Regions from separate parts of the Homo sapiens genome. Here region 2 is linked to region 1. The links come from fine-mapping of genetic effects on gene expression. A gene starts in region 1. The other region holds a variant in brackets. All regions are shown on one strand. Distances are from middle to middle. Region 1 holds the start of GLIS1 (GLIS family zinc finger 1). Region 2 overlaps GLIS1 (GLIS family zinc finger 1).

What was found.
Region 2: its variant is fine-mapped to the expression of GLIS1 in cerebellum (GTEx, PIP above 0.99).

Annotation. Positions count from the first base shown.
Region 1 is chr1:53,735,601-53,745,056 of GRCh38, forward strand. GLIS1 (GLIS family zinc finger 1) reads right to left here and starts at 3,564. Exons shown (of 11, transcript NM_001367484.1): 1 at 3,505-3,564; 2 at 2,206-2,506. The coding sequence starts at 2,464. RefSeq lists an enhancer at 2,980-3,698 and silencers at 3,384-3,553, 3,564-3,913.
Region 2 is chr1:53,531,373-53,539,784 of GRCh38, forward strand. All of the region lies in intron 4 of GLIS1 (GLIS family zinc finger 1), which reads right to left. Among named protein-coding and RNA genes, the nearest start is that of DMRTB1, 76 kb to the left of the region's middle. RefSeq lists an enhancer at 8,022-8,412. The variant A/G (reference allele first, on the strand shown) is at 4,778.

The sequences.
Region 1 (9,456 bases):
AATCGATTCCCCCAAGTGCCACAGATCATAGATGGTGGGGTCTCACAATTCCCAGCACAGTCAATACATATTTTTCAATTGGTATTTCTGTCTGTTTCCAATAAGCCTGAGAACTTGGAGCTAGACACCAAATATTCAAAGGGTTACATGGTCTGGGACTATTTCGGTGGGAGTAGGGGCAGTAAGAAGGTGCCGTTTCCTCGCAGCATTTTTAAGGACGCTGAAGAACTGGGGGAAAGCTGGGTTTGTCTCGGGCCACTTGGTGACTGCACTGTGAGGAAAAGCTTGCCTATAGCAACACAGAGGCCAGCAGGGAAACCTCTCCAAGCCCAGGACCCTGAGCCTTCCCTTTCTCCCTAGGCCAGGTTAGGCCAGAGCTGTGGCTTCCCTAACCACTGCCCTACACATACCAAACACTTTCCCACCTTCAGGCCTCAGTTTCCTCACCCTTCAAATGAGTGGGATACATCCCACCACAACAGCCTCACTGGGAGGCTATGAAGAAAAGTTGTGAAACCTCTTGGAAAAAAGCTTCACCAGAGAGACCAGCTTAAGGTACAAAGAAAGAGGCTCTTCCTCCCATCCCTTTATTCTCCTCTGCCCTTTCCAAATGGAATCCTGACTTAAAGATCTTTTATTTTGGACATGTTTGGGGGCGTGCGTAAAAATAACTGGGGTTAGGGGGAATGGAAGTAGGAAGATCGTACACAAAGCCCCCAGGTGAAAGGTCTCACCATAGCGTGGAACAAAGATTATGTTCGGGAGAGCTGTTTGCTAGGTCTGCAGAGAACTCGATCTTCAGAGGACAGCCATGATTTTTTTAAACACAGAACGTTGCAGGAGGGTATCTATTTAAGGGAGGATTGTGTATGGAGCGGGGCAAGCCAGGGAGCTCCCGGCAGCAAACATTACTCATGTCTCGCTGCGCAGCGCTCCTCTCTGGTAAAAGAGACCTCATATGTGTGTATTCCAGCAATAACACTCAGCAGGCATTTCCCGCCCCTCCCCACTGTATCTGTCCTTCTAAAATATTATCTCTATCCCTTGAAAAAGAGGCTGGCATCTAAAACAAGGAGATGAGAAGTAGTTCTCTCTTACAAAGTCAAGTGTTTTCTTCAAAAAAGAAAAAAACTACTTATGTTTATTTCATTTTACTAATCCCTGAACCAGGGAGTTGGGTGTTTTTGATCCACAAGGAGCTCTCAACTCTAAAAGTAGGCTGCCTACCCCTTCCGAGTTGTGAGGCTGATGCTAGGAAGTGATGCCTATAACCGTAAAACCCAAACTGTTTTTGTCTTCCTTGAGAATCATCTGGAATGAGAACCAAGAGGTTCCAAATGCAGATATAGTCAAACCCCAAAGCCTTGGTTTCCCCTAAGGGAAAAAAAAAGGGGGGAGGACGAGGACACAGCATCTTAACAATTTCTCCAATTCCTGGTTAATTATCTGTCAGCACGAAACTCATAAATAATGACTCAATAATAATTAACTGTGATGAGAAGAGCATGTTCCTGAAAATCCCAGCACCATCTCCGACTTTGAGCCCATAAGCCATACTGGGACCCCCACCTTCCCGTGGCCAGCTTCACTGGGGGACGAAGGGACTTGCCAAGGAGCTTGTGACCCAAGACTAGGCTGCCGAAGCACCAAGTACAGAAAAGCCATGTTTAAGTTAGGACGTGACTAGGCTGGATTGCTGATGCAGAAAATTTTCCATCAGGAATCCAGAAATCATCTGGTTTAATTAATTCCTCACTTGACAGATGGGGAAACTGAGGTCCCAAAAGGAGAGGGGTCTTGCTAAAGGCCTCTGGGTTTTGTCAGCTGAGGAGATTGAAATACTTCAAACTATGCCTTGAGCTGCTCAGAAACAGATACCAATATATGCGTTGCTATTCGCCCTCATGTATAATAAAATTTTGACAAGTTTCTATGCAAGCTTTATCAGAAACACACAGAAGCAAAATTATGTAAGCTGAGAGCTTTCTATAAACACATTTCCCCAAACGGGGCTAATTGAATTTAAATTAGATGCTTCGCAAAGCAGGCATACTTTCACACTGACAAGCTAGTCCCAAACAATAAGAGAGAAACTGAGGAACTCCGAAGAAAGTTCCACCAAGCTCTCCCGAGCACGCGGTGGCGACGCCGGGCAGCCCGAATCTCCACAGGAGCCGCCAGGCACGTTGGCAGGGCCGAACTCACCCTTCCCGGCGGCGGCGGCCTTGGATGGACCGTAGTCTCGGGGACTGCGGGGCCGGAGGAGGTCGTGGGCGCGCGGTGGCGGCGCAGGCGGCCGGGCTAGCAGGTCCCGCGGGCCCCTGTCCCCGCAGCCGCCGCCACTCACGGTGACCCTGAAGGCCATGTGCGCGCCGAGGCTGGCGGGGCCGCGGTCGGGGCCGGGCGCACCAGGGGCCTCCTTAGGCCTCTTGTCCGAGTGTGCCTCAGCCACCTCGCAATGCATGGCGCCGGGGCGGGGCGCACGGCTGGGGGTCGCGCCGGGCTCCTGGGGAGGGGAGACAGCACAGCCAGTTAGAATGCGGAAAGCGGCCCCCGTATTGTCCCGGGGCCGAGTTTGAGCAGGTCACTGCCCCTTCGGTGGATTGCGCGTCTTTAACATAGGTTAGCACCACGACACCTAGCCCAATCAGAGGTCAAACCCACCTGATTCCACGCAAAAGCCCCCTCGCTCAGGAGCGGTTCGCCCTTCCCTGGTGTGGGGAGGACCCCAGGCCCCCGCGCCGCGGCGCATTACCGCGAAGTCCCACCCAAATCCTCCTCCACCGAAACCAGCCTCCTTTGCACGAATGGTGAAACTGAGGCCTGGAGCGGGTAAGGCGCCTGTTCCGCGTCCCCCAGTGGAACACGGAGCCGGCGGCAACGAGGATTCCCAGAGCAGGGCTCGGGCGAAGCCCCGGAGACGGCTCCGGGTAGGTCACGGGCTGCGCGCTTCGTCGACTCTCCGGGGCCGAGCTGCGCGCAGAAGCTGGGGACCCGAACCCAAAGGCCCGAGGGAAACCCCCAGAGACTCACCCGCGACCACCCGAACCTGGAAAACAGGAGTCCCAAGCTGGGCGCTGAATCCTGCGACGCGAACCCATCACGCGCAGCCGGGACACCCACATTCCTATGCGCAGCGGAGGAATCGAGCCCGTCGCGCGCGCAAACCGGCACAGTGGGCAATGCCCACGCGGCCGCCGCCACACACCCGCACACCCGCCGAGGCACGCCCGGGGACGGACACGCCACCCACACTGCCGCTGGTCAGACGCTCAGCAGCGCACAACCACACAGTCCCACGCTCTCGCCACACGCGCGTGCGATGGGGGCCGCGACAGAGCCTCCCTCAGCCCTTCCATCAGGGGCCCCCAAACTCTCCGTTCCCCTCCGCGCTCCCTGCGCCATCCCCAAGCTGCCGGGGTTCGAGCGTCGCCGGGACGCCAGCCTCGGATCTCGGGCCCCGCACACGCCCCTCCCTCGGCCGCGGGCCGCGCCCCCTCTCACCTCGCAGCGGCAGCTGCAGATCGCTGGGCGCCCGGCTCGGCGCGCCTCCACTGGCGCAGCAGCCCCCGCAGCCGCCGCAGCCGCCGCCGCCGCCGCCGCGTCCTGCGGGGCGGTTCCCCGGGGGACGGGGGCGGGCCCGCGTCTGCCCAACAGCCGCTCCAGCCACTGGCTGGCCGCGGCCGCCCGGCTCAGGCCAATCGCGGCGCGAGGGCGGGGCATCCCCCCCTGGGGGTCTGGGCGGGGCCCGACGCGGGGCTGAGCAGAGGGTTTGACAGGCGGCGGCCGGCTGGATCCCCGCGCTGCCCGCTGTTCTCAGACGGCCGAGCCGGGCAGGACGGCGGGGCGGCGCCGCGGCGAGAGAGGCTGGGCTCGGGGGTCGGCGGAGTGCGCTGGGCGTGAGGAGTGCCGGGCTGAACCCGGCTCCCTGCCCGCCTCTCCACTAGCCCCGGGCAGGATCCTCCCTTCTCCCGGTCGGTTTTCCCCTCCGTCAGATGGGAACGACGCTGTCTGCTAACGCGAAGCGGACAGATGCGAAAGTGCTTGAAAAGTTTTCTTGCAGAATCCAACCCTCTCACTGGAGAATTTGCAGAGATTTCACAGCTAGTGGGCAGCAAATTTGGGACCCAAACCCAGGCCTCTCAGCCCACTTTCTTACGTTTGTTTTTGTGTTTTCCGCCGGAAAGAGTCCAGGGTAAAAGGTCTCAAACTCTGAAGTTAAAGATAAAAAAATGGTGCCTGATCCCAACTAGGAAATATTCCAATTGAGTCTTGGGGAATAGGCCCCCAGCACTTAGGCTTTTAGCGAGCTCCCAGGAGATCCTTACAGATCTGGGGATTGAGACCCACTCTAGGGGTCTACTCTGTTGTCCTGCCTTCTGGGATTCCCCCACAGACAGCACGCAGTGTCTCAGGGGGCCCTGCCCAACGTGTAGGAAGAGCACGGGACAAAGAACAGTAAGGCTTCACAGAGCCTGCAGGCAATGGCTCAGTTCCCCGCTCTGAGCCTGAGTCCTCCCGTGTAAAATGGCAGTGTTTGCCTAGGCCTGGTCTACCTGCCATGCCTACCGAAGGATCCAGCCAAGCCCTGAAATGGTTTCTGCATTTCACCTAGGCGCCTCCTGTGCACTGTTTGATGGTGGTCTGGGCTGGCTCCAAGGGGCCTGACTGGTTTCGAACTCCTTTGAAGTCTGGTCTCTTTGACCTTGGTCTCAAACTGGAAAATGTATATGGAGCCCTTCTGGACTACACAACATGTCAAGTTCATAGCACAGGACTCTGCACAGAACAACCGACCCCAAGCAGCATCCTCAGAATCCTGGAAAACCAGGATTTTAGAATTTCAAAATCATAAAATTGGATTTCCTATAATTTGTTTAAAATAGTATCTAACAATTAGAGTAATAATAGTAAGAAAGACTTTGAGGTTTTAGTTAGACCCACCCTCCATTCAGAGGAGAAAGGACGTGACTGGCCTGTGTCAATGTGGTGGAGGGTGGCAGAGCCCCGGGATCCAGGCTTCCTGACTCCTGGCAATGCTGTTCCTTCAGTACCAACCACTCTGCTGCTCACAGGGAGAGGGTGTAAATCAACCATGCCCATAACACACAGGCCAAGGGTTGCGCCTCACTCAGTGCCTGCACCCCCCACCACCACATACTCTTGTGGAGTCACAGCTGGTTCTGCTGCCAACAAGCCATGTGGCTCTAGACGAATGGTAACCTCACTCTGGACCTCAGCTTCCCCCCTCCAAAGGCATGAAGTTGGAAGATCTCTGGCCTTTCTAGTTCTGCTCTTCTCTTCAGTAAGGCCAGGATCCAAGTCCTCTGCCCTCCCTCCACCCCCCACAATGCCCCCCCCCGCCGCCCCGCTGCAAAACACACACACACACAACAAGCACTGCGCTGCACATTTAGTCGGGACTCTGAAAACGTTTGCTGAATGAGTCATTTAACCAACTGGACCTGAAAGCAAAGGCCCTCCAAATTTCCAGATGAAGAAACAGCTCTTTCCATTATTCTTTTGAGCACTTACCCTGGGCCAGCCCCTATACCTGAGCTAGGGACACAGAAACACAGAACCCGCCCCCTCCCCTTCCCCTCAGTGAGCTCACAGGTCCACCTGACCAAAATAGGTGGGTTTGTGAAGGCTGGCAAAGTGATGAGAAGTTTAATCTGCTCAATAAAACAGACCTCTTAAACACTGTAAATGGCAGAACCCCTTTGGAGATACTCAGAATCTAGTAGGTATATGCTTTTTTTTTTTTCCACAAAGGAAACACAAGAAACTGTTAACAGTGGTTAAGGGAATGGAGGACTGAGGGAAGGCCTGCACTTTTCATTTTTATACTTGTCTGAACTGATTTGTGTTTTCTAAGTATATATTATCCTCCCTCTCTCTCTCTTTTTTTTTTTTTTTTGTTTTCTTTTTCTTTTTTGAGACAGAGTCTCACTCCTCTGTCTGCCCAGGCTGGAGTCCAGTGGCACAATCCCAGCTCACGGCAACCTCTGCCTCCCAGACTCAAGTGATTCTTCTGCCTTAGCCTCCAGAGCAGCTGGGACTACAGGCGCGCACCACCATGCCTGACTAATTTTCGTATTTTTAGTAGACAAGGTTTCACCATATTGGCCAGGCTGGTCTCGAACTCCTGACCTTGTGATCCGCCCACCTTGGCCTCCCAAAGTGCTGGGATTACAGGCATGAACCACTGTGCCCGGCCCCTCCCTGTCTTTCAATAGGGGTTATTTGAGCAGTGGGATTATGTGCTGCATTTTTTTCCTTTATATTTTTGGTATTAAAATAAAACTCCTTAATATTTTAATTGTCAAAAACAAAATAAAGTGAAACACAGTAACCTGCTTCTCACTTTAGCAGGCTAGACAGTAATGTCTGCTTTTTACACTAACCCGTGTTACAACTCACACTCTCTTCTGCCCTCCCACAGTCTGTCTACTGGATATCTCTATCAGGATCCATCTGCAAAATCGAACATCATTTTTTCATCTCTGACGTTGCTCCTCACTCCTATGTCCCTAACTGGGTGAATGGCCCTATGGCCAACTCCCCCAGTTCAGAAATCTGAGTCATCCTCAGCCCCTCCTCTCCCATACTCCTATATCTGACTTGTCATAAATTTAACTAACAATCCTCCTCCTCTCCATCCTCACTACTACATTTCTTCCAAGTTCTTTTTGCCTCCATCCTCATCCTTCTCCTAATTAGTGATTTTCCACACTGGTCTCCTTATCAGTCTCTAAAGTATAGATCTGGCCGGGCACAGTGGCTCCCACTTGTAATCACAGTACTTTGGGAGGCCAAGACAGGAGGATCACTTGAGGCCAGGAATTGGAGACCAGACTGGGCAGCATAGCAAGACCTTGTCTCTACAAAAAATAAAATAAAAAATAGTCAGGCATGGTGGCCTGCACCTATACTATCAGCTAATCAAGAAGCTGAGGTGGAGGATCCCTTGAGTCTAGGAGTTTGAGACTGCAGTGAGCTATGATCATACCACCATACTCCAGGCTAAGTGACAGAGAGAGACCCTGTCTCTAAATAAATAAGTAAATAAATAAATAAATAAAAATATAGATCTGACCATGGCACTTCCCTGTTTAAATCTCATAGCTCCCAATGGCCATCTAAATAAAATCAAACCATTTTCTTACCCTGCTCCCACCCCTACCCTATGTTCCAAGCACCTTGGAATAGTTTTCATCTCCTAGAATCCGGAACATATATTCATGCCTTCATAGCTCTGTATATGATTTCTCCTATGCTAATATTTTCTCCCCTTATTCACCTTGCCTACTTCTTCCTATGAATCATTTCATACCCAGCCCAAGTGTCACCTTCCCACAAGCCTTCCCTGAATCCTCGAGGGGGCTATAGCTATTTTCTCCCTGCACACTTTCACAATCCTCTGCTTTATTCTATCTGAGAACTTATTACAGTTTTGTAACTGCCTGTGTAACAGCCTGTCTCCCCCCTCTAGAATGAGACCTCTGTGAGGTCAGGGGCAGCTTTTTGCCTTTCTATCTTCAGAACCTAGAAGAGATTCCTGCACAAAGTAGGTAAATATTTACTGAATGCTGATTGAATTATTAAAGACTCACCACTAATTCATTTGCTTGCCTACATTTCTAGCTAAGAGCTTCCCCACCCTATCAAGACGTCTCTCCTCACTGTCTTTGTTCAGGGGTGTAAGCATTCACTCAGCAAATGGTTGAGGTAAAAGTAGACATTTCTGTGTCTAAGGTGTCCTGTGTCCAGGAGATAGGAGGAAGGAGAAGGAAGAGAGGTGATCGATGTTACACTGCTTACCCTGCCTCTGTGTCTTGCAGCAAGGGAAGAATTAACATGGGGAACCTACCATGTACCATGGCTGACACTCTCCATATGTGACCTCACTTAATCCTGACAACTCTGGATAAAGAGGTTATCATCCCTATTTTACAGGTGAGAAGATAAAAGTTCAAAATTAAGTGACCTCCCAAAGTTCCCACAGTCAAGAGCGTCTCTGCCTCCCATACATCTATGGCCAACTGATTTTCAATAAGAGTGCCAAGACCACTCACTGAGGAAAGAATTGTCTCTTCAACAAATGGTATTGGGACAACTGGATATCCACCTGCCAAAGAATGAAGTTGGATCCCATCTCACATCATATTCAAAAAGTAATTCACAATGGACCAATGACCTAAATGTAAGAGCTAAAACCATGAAATGCTTAGAAGAAAACACAGAGGTACACACCTTTTTAAAAAATAATTTTTAGGAGTAAATCTTCTTGATCTTGGATTTGGCAGTGGATTTTTTTTTTTTTTTTTTTTGACAGAGTCTCACTCTGCTACAACACAATGGTGCAATCTGGGCTCACTGCAGTCTCAACCTCCTGAGTTCAAGGGATCCTCCCACCTCAGCCTCTCAAGTAGGTGGGACCACACACTCTCAAGTAGGTGGGACAACAGGTGTGTGCAACCATGCTCAGCTAAGTTTTTAAATTTTTTGTAGAGACAAAGTCTCACTATATTGCCCAGGCTGGTCATATATCCTGGGCTCAAGTGATCTTCCCATCTTGGCCTCTCAAAGTGCTGGGATTACAGTCATGAGCCACCACACCAGTCTGGATCTTTGATACAATACCAAAAACATGAGCAATAAAATAAAAAATAAATTAGGCTTCATCAAAATTTAAAACTTTTGTACACCAAAGAACATTATCAAAATACTGAAGAGACAACCTACAGAACGGGAGAAAATATAGGCAAATCATATATCTGATAAGGGTCTAGCCTCCAGAATATACAAAGAACTCACACGACTCAAAAACAAAAACACAACCCAACGAAAAAATAGGCACAGGAGTTGAATAGACATTTCTTCAAAGAAGATATACAAGTGGCCAAGCACATGAAAAGATGCTCAACATTATTAGCCATTAGGAAAATGCAAATCATAACCAGAATGAGCTACTAGAGAAGCTGAGGTAGGAAGATTGCTTGAGGCCAGGAGTTCGAGACTGCAGTGCTGATGATCACGTCTGTGAATAGCCACTGCACTCTAGCCTGGGCAACATAGTGAGACCCTATCTCCAAAAATTTTTTTAAATTTTTTAAATAAATAAAAACAAAACACAATAAAATATCACTTCACATCCAATAGGATGATATAACTGAATAAAAGGAATGTCTCAAGTTGAATGATGAGGAATCATAAAAAAAAATGAGTGTTGGTGAGGATGTGGAGAAATAGGAACCCTCAAACATTGCTGGTGGAAATGTAAAATGGTTCAGCCACTTTGTATTTTTTAGTAGAGATGGGGTTTCACCATGTTGGCCCTGCTGGTTTCAAACTCCTGAACTCAGGTGATCCACCCCCTCGGCCTCCCAAAGTGCTGGGATTACAGGTATGAGGCACCACGCCTGTCTGATTCAGTCGCTTTGGAAAACAGTT
Region 2 (8,412 bases), 200 kb before region 1:
CAAAGCCTGCTCTTCACATCCTTTCTCTGGGGCTCACCTGCGGGGAGTAGGGGGAGGAGCTGGTTGGGTGCCTGGAGAGGACTGTGGGCTCATTTCAGACCCTGTGATCCACCTGGCTGATTTTCATGGCCTTGGCTCAAGGCTGTTCAGCACATTGAGTAATTTCTGGTGCGAGGCTGTTCACTGGGACAGACTGGCTCCAGTCTGCGGTGAGTGCCAAGCTGCAGAGAGAACTCAGACATGGGTCCTGCCCTCTAGGTGTAGAGAGCCCATGTGGGAGATGCACACACGCACACCACCATAAAGCGACGTGGTTGAGATGTCACAGAGGGAGACACAGGGGCTGTGGCCACACAGAGGAGATGCCTGAGGCAGCCTGTGGGCCGCGAGCTGCTTCCACGGGCTTGATGACTGTAGCGAGCTTAGACAGACATGTAGCAGTGTGGAGACACAGGCAGGCAATTCCCCCAACACTGATGCATTCACCTCATTCTGTCTCTGGCCCTGCCCGAGCCCTGAACTGCAACCAACAGATCCAAAGAAGATAGTGGGGTGACGCACACTGAAGGCCAAGGAAGGGCAGGCACCAAAGCATGAAAAAGGCACAGATTCCCTGTGAAGGCCCCTGAGTGGTTGATGTGGGGTTCATTACGCTGGGGGTGGGCTGGGCTCTACTGGGCAAGGAGTCTGCAGGGAGCTCAAAGGCCAGATAGCGGGGACTCAAATGCTGGGCCAGTGAGCCTGGACTCCACCTTGGGGAAAGTGGAGACACTTCTCCTAAAGAAGGGAAAGGACAGGCTCAGATATGTGCCCTAGGAAGACCTCTCTGGCTGCTGGTGACAAGTGGGGACCGGGGGAGGAGACAGGAAGATGGCAATTGTAGCAGTTCCAGAGGAGGGTCACCAACGCCCCATCCAGGGCAGAGGTGGCAGATGGAGCACAGGCCAGGGCAGAGCTGCTCAGACAGATATGAGAGACACAAGAGACACGAGAGACAATGATGGTTCCGGGACAGCTCCCTCTGCGCCTGTCCCCTGGAAGCCCAGTCACAACTTGGGGCCGTGCTCTGCTGGGGCGGGTCCAAGGCGAGCCACCCACAGCTGGGTTTTAGAAGCTGTTCTGCTTCCTACTTCCAGATGTTGTGCCTTTTTCATGCATCCAAACCAGGAGGAAATCCTGTTTGGGCAGTAAATAGGCTGCAAGCCACCTCCCTTGCTCGCCTGCAATGGCCTTGTGCCAAGTTCACCCCAACGTGAGATGGGGGAGCCCGGGCTGGAGAGTGGGGCTTCCTCTCAGCATCCTTTGTTCCCCTCTGGCCCATGCAGGGCAGGGAGGTATCTACAGCAGAGGACAATAACTCCTCCAGGCTTCGTCATTTTCCTGACTGTGGGAGAGTGCTGGAAGGTGGACCATGATCGATACATCATCTTCTCCCCGAGGTCTGTGTATTCCTGCCTTGGCCAACCCTCTGCTCAGCACAGTTGCTCTGTCTCTATTCGGACTGTCCCCCTCCTGGGACTCCTTCCCTTCCAACTCTCTGACCATCTAATTCATACGTTTTTCAAACACAGGATCTGCAGCTTGGTGTTCATGGTCTTCCAACATGGACCCAACTGCCTCTCCCATGCAGACGCTCCACGCGTGATCTGCAGGAGTGAGACTGTGTCTGAACAGTCCTGAATTCTGTTAGGAATTTCCATGCCCTCAGGCCTTTACTTCAGTTGTTCCCTAGGCCTGGAATGCCTTTCCTTTATTTGCTCTTTTAGCAAACATCTACTCCTGTTGCTTAAGCACTCTCTCTCAGAAGCCTGCCTCAAACTTCCCCACCCCATCCTCTGTGACACCCATGAGCTTGTGGGGTAGGTTTTCCCTGCACAGCCATGGCCTTCTCCCCATGCCTCCAGGCTGAGAGTTTGAGAGTTCCTTGAGAGCAGGGCTGGCATCTCAATCATGGGGCAAAGGGTGGGACAGAAGCATGATATGGGGGTTGCTGGGCATGCAGTCCACGCACCCCTGTGAGTACACCCCCTTACCCCAGTGTGCAGAAAGGTACCCCGATAAGTGCGTGTGCCCTGATGCCTGTGCTGTGCCCATGTATGTTGGCCCAGCCTTGTTCTGCTCCCCGCCCCCTGGAACTTTCCAGAGCTGAGCCACAGGCTGGGGTATAATGAGCAGCTGGCTGGGATGCCCTGATGAGAGTGGCCCGTCCCTCCAGGTGGAAACAGAGGTACCAGCAGACGAAGGGGCACTGCCCCATCAGGACTGGTCTGGGATGAGGATGCTGCAGGCACCCCTGGCAGAGCCAGAGTCATGCCCCATCAGGACCAGCATCCCAGACACGCCAGGGGCCTTGAGGGCCTATGGGATCTGCCTGCAGCTGGCTGCCAAGGTCCCTGTGGTCCTTCCTAGTCAACAACTGCACAGATGGGGACAACAGAGGCACAGAAAGAGGGATGAGAGCGACCATCAGTTCAGCACCTATTGTGTGCTTGGTTCTGCTGGGCCTGGTGCTGTCACAAATGTGGCACCTTATCTTCTTCACTGCCCAGTAGGCAAGTATTACTGTCTCCACTGACAGATGGGGAGCTGATGCTCAGGGTGCAGCCAGCACAGGGGTTACACACACGGACCCTGGTGTAGACCCAGCCCAGGGGGAGCTCTCTGGGTCCCGGGAGCAGCCTCCAATGAGTGCGAGGTAGCCTTTGGGGTGGGTGTGGCTTGAAGGGCCCCCATCCATAGGCTGTGTAGGGCTGGGAGGGCTGCAGGGAGGGAACCCCCACCATTGGGTTGTGGGGGCACAGATGCTGCAGAATGGATGCATGGGGCTTGTGAGACCAGAAATGCAGCCATCTAGCACGTCCCTGGCTTCGACCTTGGTTTCTCAGGTGGAGGGAGGACTTACCTTCAGGTAATGGCACCACGACCCGAGGGCATCGTAATGATTCCATGGGGCCTGCACCACAGGGAGTGCCACTGGGGCGGGGCCTTCCTGACATCCCGGTCGCCTCAGGCTCTATGGTACATTTGTCCTGGACAGACACCTGCTTCCTGCTGCCAGTGTCCAAGGGTACAGGCTGGCAGAGCAGACCCTGGACCCCCACTGCAAGGGCTGAGTGCCTCTATGTGGGGGGTTCAGAGAGGGAGATTGTTCCCCCTGTGCCAGGGGCACTGAGCCTGAGCTATGCCATAGGCAGAACTGCCATCTCTCCTGAGAAAGAAGTGCCTGCAACACAAGGTAAGCCCTGTGGCCTGAAAGCCAGCTGTGCACCCCATCCCTCCACCCCCACCTGACCACCCACCCCATCCCTGCTACTGTGCACCCCCCATCCTTCCACTCACGCACTTCTGCGAGTCACTCACTCATCCTCTCCTCTTTGAGCACACAGGTTCTTATCCTCCTGCCTCACTCAGCTGCCCCTCTGTGTGCCTGGCAGTGTGCTCTGAGCTGAGACCCAAGGGCGTCAAAGACCCATAGCTCCAAACACACTGGAACTTGTTCAGAGCCCTAGGAAGGGGCTGACCCGGGGGCTTCTGGCTGGCAGAGGCTGGGGAGCTACAAAAGCCTTCACAGAGGAGCTCAGCCCTGACACCCAGGCAGGGGCTAGAAACACAGAGCCAGGAAAAGCATTCCAGGGAGAGGGCAAAGCATGAACAAAAGCAGGGAGGCTGGAAGAGGTGGGATATGTTCTGGAAACAGCTAAGGATCTATTGAGCAGAGAAGGAAGGGAAGCAGGGAGAGGAGAGGTGAAAGTAGAAATGGGAGTTTTGGGGGCTCCCTTCATTCAAACACATGGGGTAGTGGTTCCTTCTGCAGCAGGCAAATTTGGGGATTTTTGATTCTAAAGACTTCACAGAAGCCACTCCATGCAAGGACTGATGTGGCACAGGCTCTTCACTTGAGGGACTCTGGTGCGACTTCTGCTGGCTGGACCACCCCAGGTCACGCAGGGCTGATGCCCTGGGTCTGAGCTGTCACTGTTTCTTCCATCTACCTTTACTAAGCACCTACCGTGAGTCCAGGCACTGGGCTGGACCGGTGCAGGAGGGTGCGACATGGGCCCCTAAGCCTCAAGCACATATGGCCCTGAGTTGCTGGCACATGGCCAGCCCACCTTGGGGCCTCTCAGTCCCTCATGGTGGATGGCTGGGTGGGTATGGGGCCCCTGACCTCCCACCTTCTACCTGGATGCTTGAGCCAGGAACATGTTCCCTCCTCTCTGGGCCCTGCATCCAACTAGTCACCAGCCCAGGAAATGCCACCTTGTAATCACCTTCCAGGTCTGCCCCCTTCTCTTCTTATCCACCCACTGCCCTAATCCACACCCCAGCATCACTTACCTGGGTGACTGCACAGGTGCCATCCTGCCTCCCTCCTGCCTTTCCCAACCCATTTCCACGAGCTATCTGAAAAGAAGACTTAAGCCCATAGCTCTGTGTCCCTCCCTGCTCAAACCCTGCATGGTTCCCCAGTGCCTCAACATGTACAGATCCTCACCCTGGCATTCTGGCCAGCATGATCTGGTCCCTTGGTGCTGGCTTGGTGGCATCTGTACCCTCCAACCCCCGTACCCACACCAATGCATTCCAGCTTCAGATCAGCCTGGGTGCAAAGCTGGCCTCCACGCTTCCCGACCCGATGAATCAGGGTGAGCTCATTTCACTTGTCAGAGACCAGATACCTCAGATGTAAGAAGGGGCACACTGTGGGGGCTCTGTGAACCACTGTGTGCAGAGGCATCAGCGCTCTGACGCCATCTGTCCATGCAGAGAATGATAC[A/G]GGCACCTTCTGTCGAGGGTGGATTTGAGACACACTGGCTCAAATAACCAAAAACACAACAGACTGATCTGGCTAGAAGGAAGGGCTCCCACACCATGGGAACAGAGAAGGTGATACTGAGGGCAGGGGGTACCCAGGATGGGGAGAAGGAAAAGCAGGCATGTATAACAATCTTGAAAAATGTAAGAATAGGTGGTTAGGTTTTTCTTATTTACCCCAAAATACACAAACAGTAAAACATATTTGAAGATGAAGTTGGGGTGAATTCAGAATGACAGTAGTGACTGGGTGACACTTTCTCTGACACCTACCGTAGGCCAAGTGCTGTGTGTGTTTCATTTAATTCAGACAACGTTCCCCGCTGAGGAAGCTACTTCCCAGCCCACTCTGCAGAATAAGAAACTGAGGCTCAGAAGGGTGATGTCACTGGCTCCAGGTCACACAGCCAGTCAGTGACGGAGCAGGAATCTGACCTTGGGTCTGGCTGATGAGTCTATATGTGTCCCTAACCACTCTGGCCACTGCCTCAGGGACTCCTACCTAAAGCACCAAAAGACAAGTTCTCTCTCAGGAGCTAGTACTGTCATTTCAAACCAGGCGTCACAGGTTCCATTCCTGGGGCAAGGCCAGGCCTGGGCCCAGCCCCAGAGCTGACGCTGGGAAGGGAGGATGCCCACAGTGGATGCCTCCATGCAGAAAGGAAAACCAGGTGGCACAGTGGAGAAGAAAGTACCAGCTGATCCACAGAACAGCCTTGAAAGGCCCAATTCCCACATGTGGGGTGTGTTACAGCAGAAGATTAAAAAAACGGGGAAAATACCCCGGGAACCGTGAAGCCCCAGACCATCTGGAGTTTTATAGTGACAGGCAGGGGAAAATCAGAACCTAATTGAAAAATGTCCACTGCAATCCATTACTGCTGCGTGCCGCTCACAGAGCAGAGGGCAGGAGATGAAAGACAGAGGGGAGCCATCCCAGGAGCCAGGCAGGGGGTGGCATCCTCGCCTCTGGGCCAAGCCCAGGGACCCCTCAAGCTCTGGCTTGGGGAGGGGGAGGGCTGAAGCCCAAGATCCGCTGGGGGCTGGCTCAGACGTTCAAGTTGCAGGGTGGGTCCACCTTCCTCAGCAAGCCACACTCAGAGCCTTTTATGCATCTGTGGACGGGCTAAGAGCATGCAGGGGAGCCCCAGCACAGTGCCTGGCGTGCCGCTGGCACTAGGTGATGGCTCTTCTCTCCCTCTGGCTCCTGGGGAAGAACCAAGGGCCCTGTTTCACATGTGAGTTGGTGACACCATGCCGCAAACCAAAGTGCTGCAAATCAAGTCACGCAAACAGAGGTTTGTGCTGGGGATCCACCACCGGGAGCCTGAACCTGGGCTAGTCACGCCTCATTTCTGTCCTCGTTTTTCTCTTCTCTAAAATGGGGCCACCACAAACGGCTGGTAGAAGTAAATAAAAGAATATGCCCAGTGTAGGAACTGGCACATAGCTGGTGCCTAATGAATGTCAAGTTTCCTGCCTGCGGCTGGCATGGCCCAAAAAGGAGGCAGGGTTCAGTTTCTCATGCTCTAACTAAGAATCTGGACACAGAGTGAAGAGGAGGTTTGGGGGAACAGGGCATGGCACGGGGGCAGGGGAGGAAATGCCTTCAGTTTTAGCATTTGCCAGTGACTTGCTTCTAAATAAACACATTTCTGGTTTAAGGGTAAAATATATTGGGTTACAAAAGTCTGGCAGGCCATTCAGGGATCAACTTCTCATTTTTGTACGAACTTTTAAGTTACTTTACAACAATGATGTGGATGGGAGAAATGCAATGCCAGCTCCTTCTCCAACATGTCAAATAATCCTGCGTTTGGCCAGCTTTAAAGGCCAGCAAGCTGGGCACTGAGGGCCGCTCCTCGCTCCTGCACTCTGGGAGGGGCCGCTGGCTGGCCTGAGGTTACTGTCCTGTGCTCCCCCGTGGGGCTCCTTGAGGGTCTCCTCAGAGTTTGGGGCTTCGCCAGTCCTCTGTGGGGAGGTTGAGGCAAGAATGGAACGGACAGACGGGAGGAGGGTCCTGGGGGTGAGGCTGGAGGGCACTGACCCGGGCTCTTTGATTTGGACCGTGAGGCTCTCGAGGGTCTGGTGTTTGGGGATGCAGTGCCACCTGCATACATGAATGGAAAGTGGGGCATGTGCGGGGACTGAGCAGAACAGCAGCTATCACATTGACCATGTGCCTAGGACTGGGCCAAGCTCTCCCTAAACACCATCTCACTAATCCTGCAACCCCTATTGTTACAGAGGTGGAAACTGAGTTTAGGTGAAGTGCCAGAGTCCCAGCGCTCACTCATGGGATGGAGCCTGGGTTCACCTCCAGTGCCGAGGTCTGTGCCCTGGGCACACTCTGGTCCCAGGTAGCCATGATCGAGCACTGCCATGAGAGGCAAGACCATCTGCTCACTGGGCCTTCATAAGCAGCTGGCAGGCCAGGGAGGGCTGGGGGCACACAGTGAGGCAAGGGAGAACAGGACAGAGGGACCATACACCTCCTCTGGGAGCCCATGCGGGTGGGCCTGTCCTTGGGAGGAGGATCTCAAGGCTGAGGGGGTGGGGGCTGCAGACACCCTGACCCTTCCTCACCAGGAACACACTGACAGCTCTGGGCTGGGCTCTTCTCTGGCAAAAGTTCCTGTCTGGGCAAGAAATGGGTTCCTGTCCCCAGCAGTGCAGTTGAGGCATCTCCTGGAAAGGTGGCCGGCCAGCAAGGATCAAGAGAGTCACCCTTCCAGGGCATGTGGAACCCCCGAAAGTAGGAGGTGCAGGAGGGGCTGAGTCAGCTTCTCTTGGGCCCAAGTGGACAGGTGGGATCCAGGGGCTCTCCCAGTGCAGAGCTGTGGCTAGACATCGTCTGGAATGAGGAAAGAGGCTCTGCCAGGGGCCAGGGCTCCGCAGAGAGCACACAGCATAGAATGGCTGACACATGTACACCAAGCCACCAGCCACAGGCCCAGAAACGTGGACACTCACACACTCTGATGTGAACACCTCTCCCTCCAACCAAGCCACACGTCGGAGACAGCCCCAACACACACCAACACACACACATGGATTCACACACACACACACACCAAGACCCAGAAACTCCCTCACACACACACACACACACTACACCTAAACACACACACCCCAATTCACCCACACATACCATATCCCCACATATATACCACATAACACACCCACACATATCATACCACACACACACTCCACAGCACATGAATGCACACCCCACACACACACCATACCACACATCACAGCACACCCCCAATACATACACATCATACCTCCCACACACACGTACCACACCCCCAACATACACACACCACACCACACACACACATACCACACGGTATACACCCCCCCACACACACTACACATCATACACATAAACTGTGTTTACACCCCATGACTCATATCACAAAAACACACAGGCCAGGACACACATGTTCACACATATACCCAAAGACGTCCAAGCCCCAGACCTGCCACATTCACAAACACACTAACCCCCACCCACCAGCCACACCGACACACTGCCCCACGCATAGCACAGCACACGTGGAAACTGGCCACCTGGAACATGGATGTGCGTGT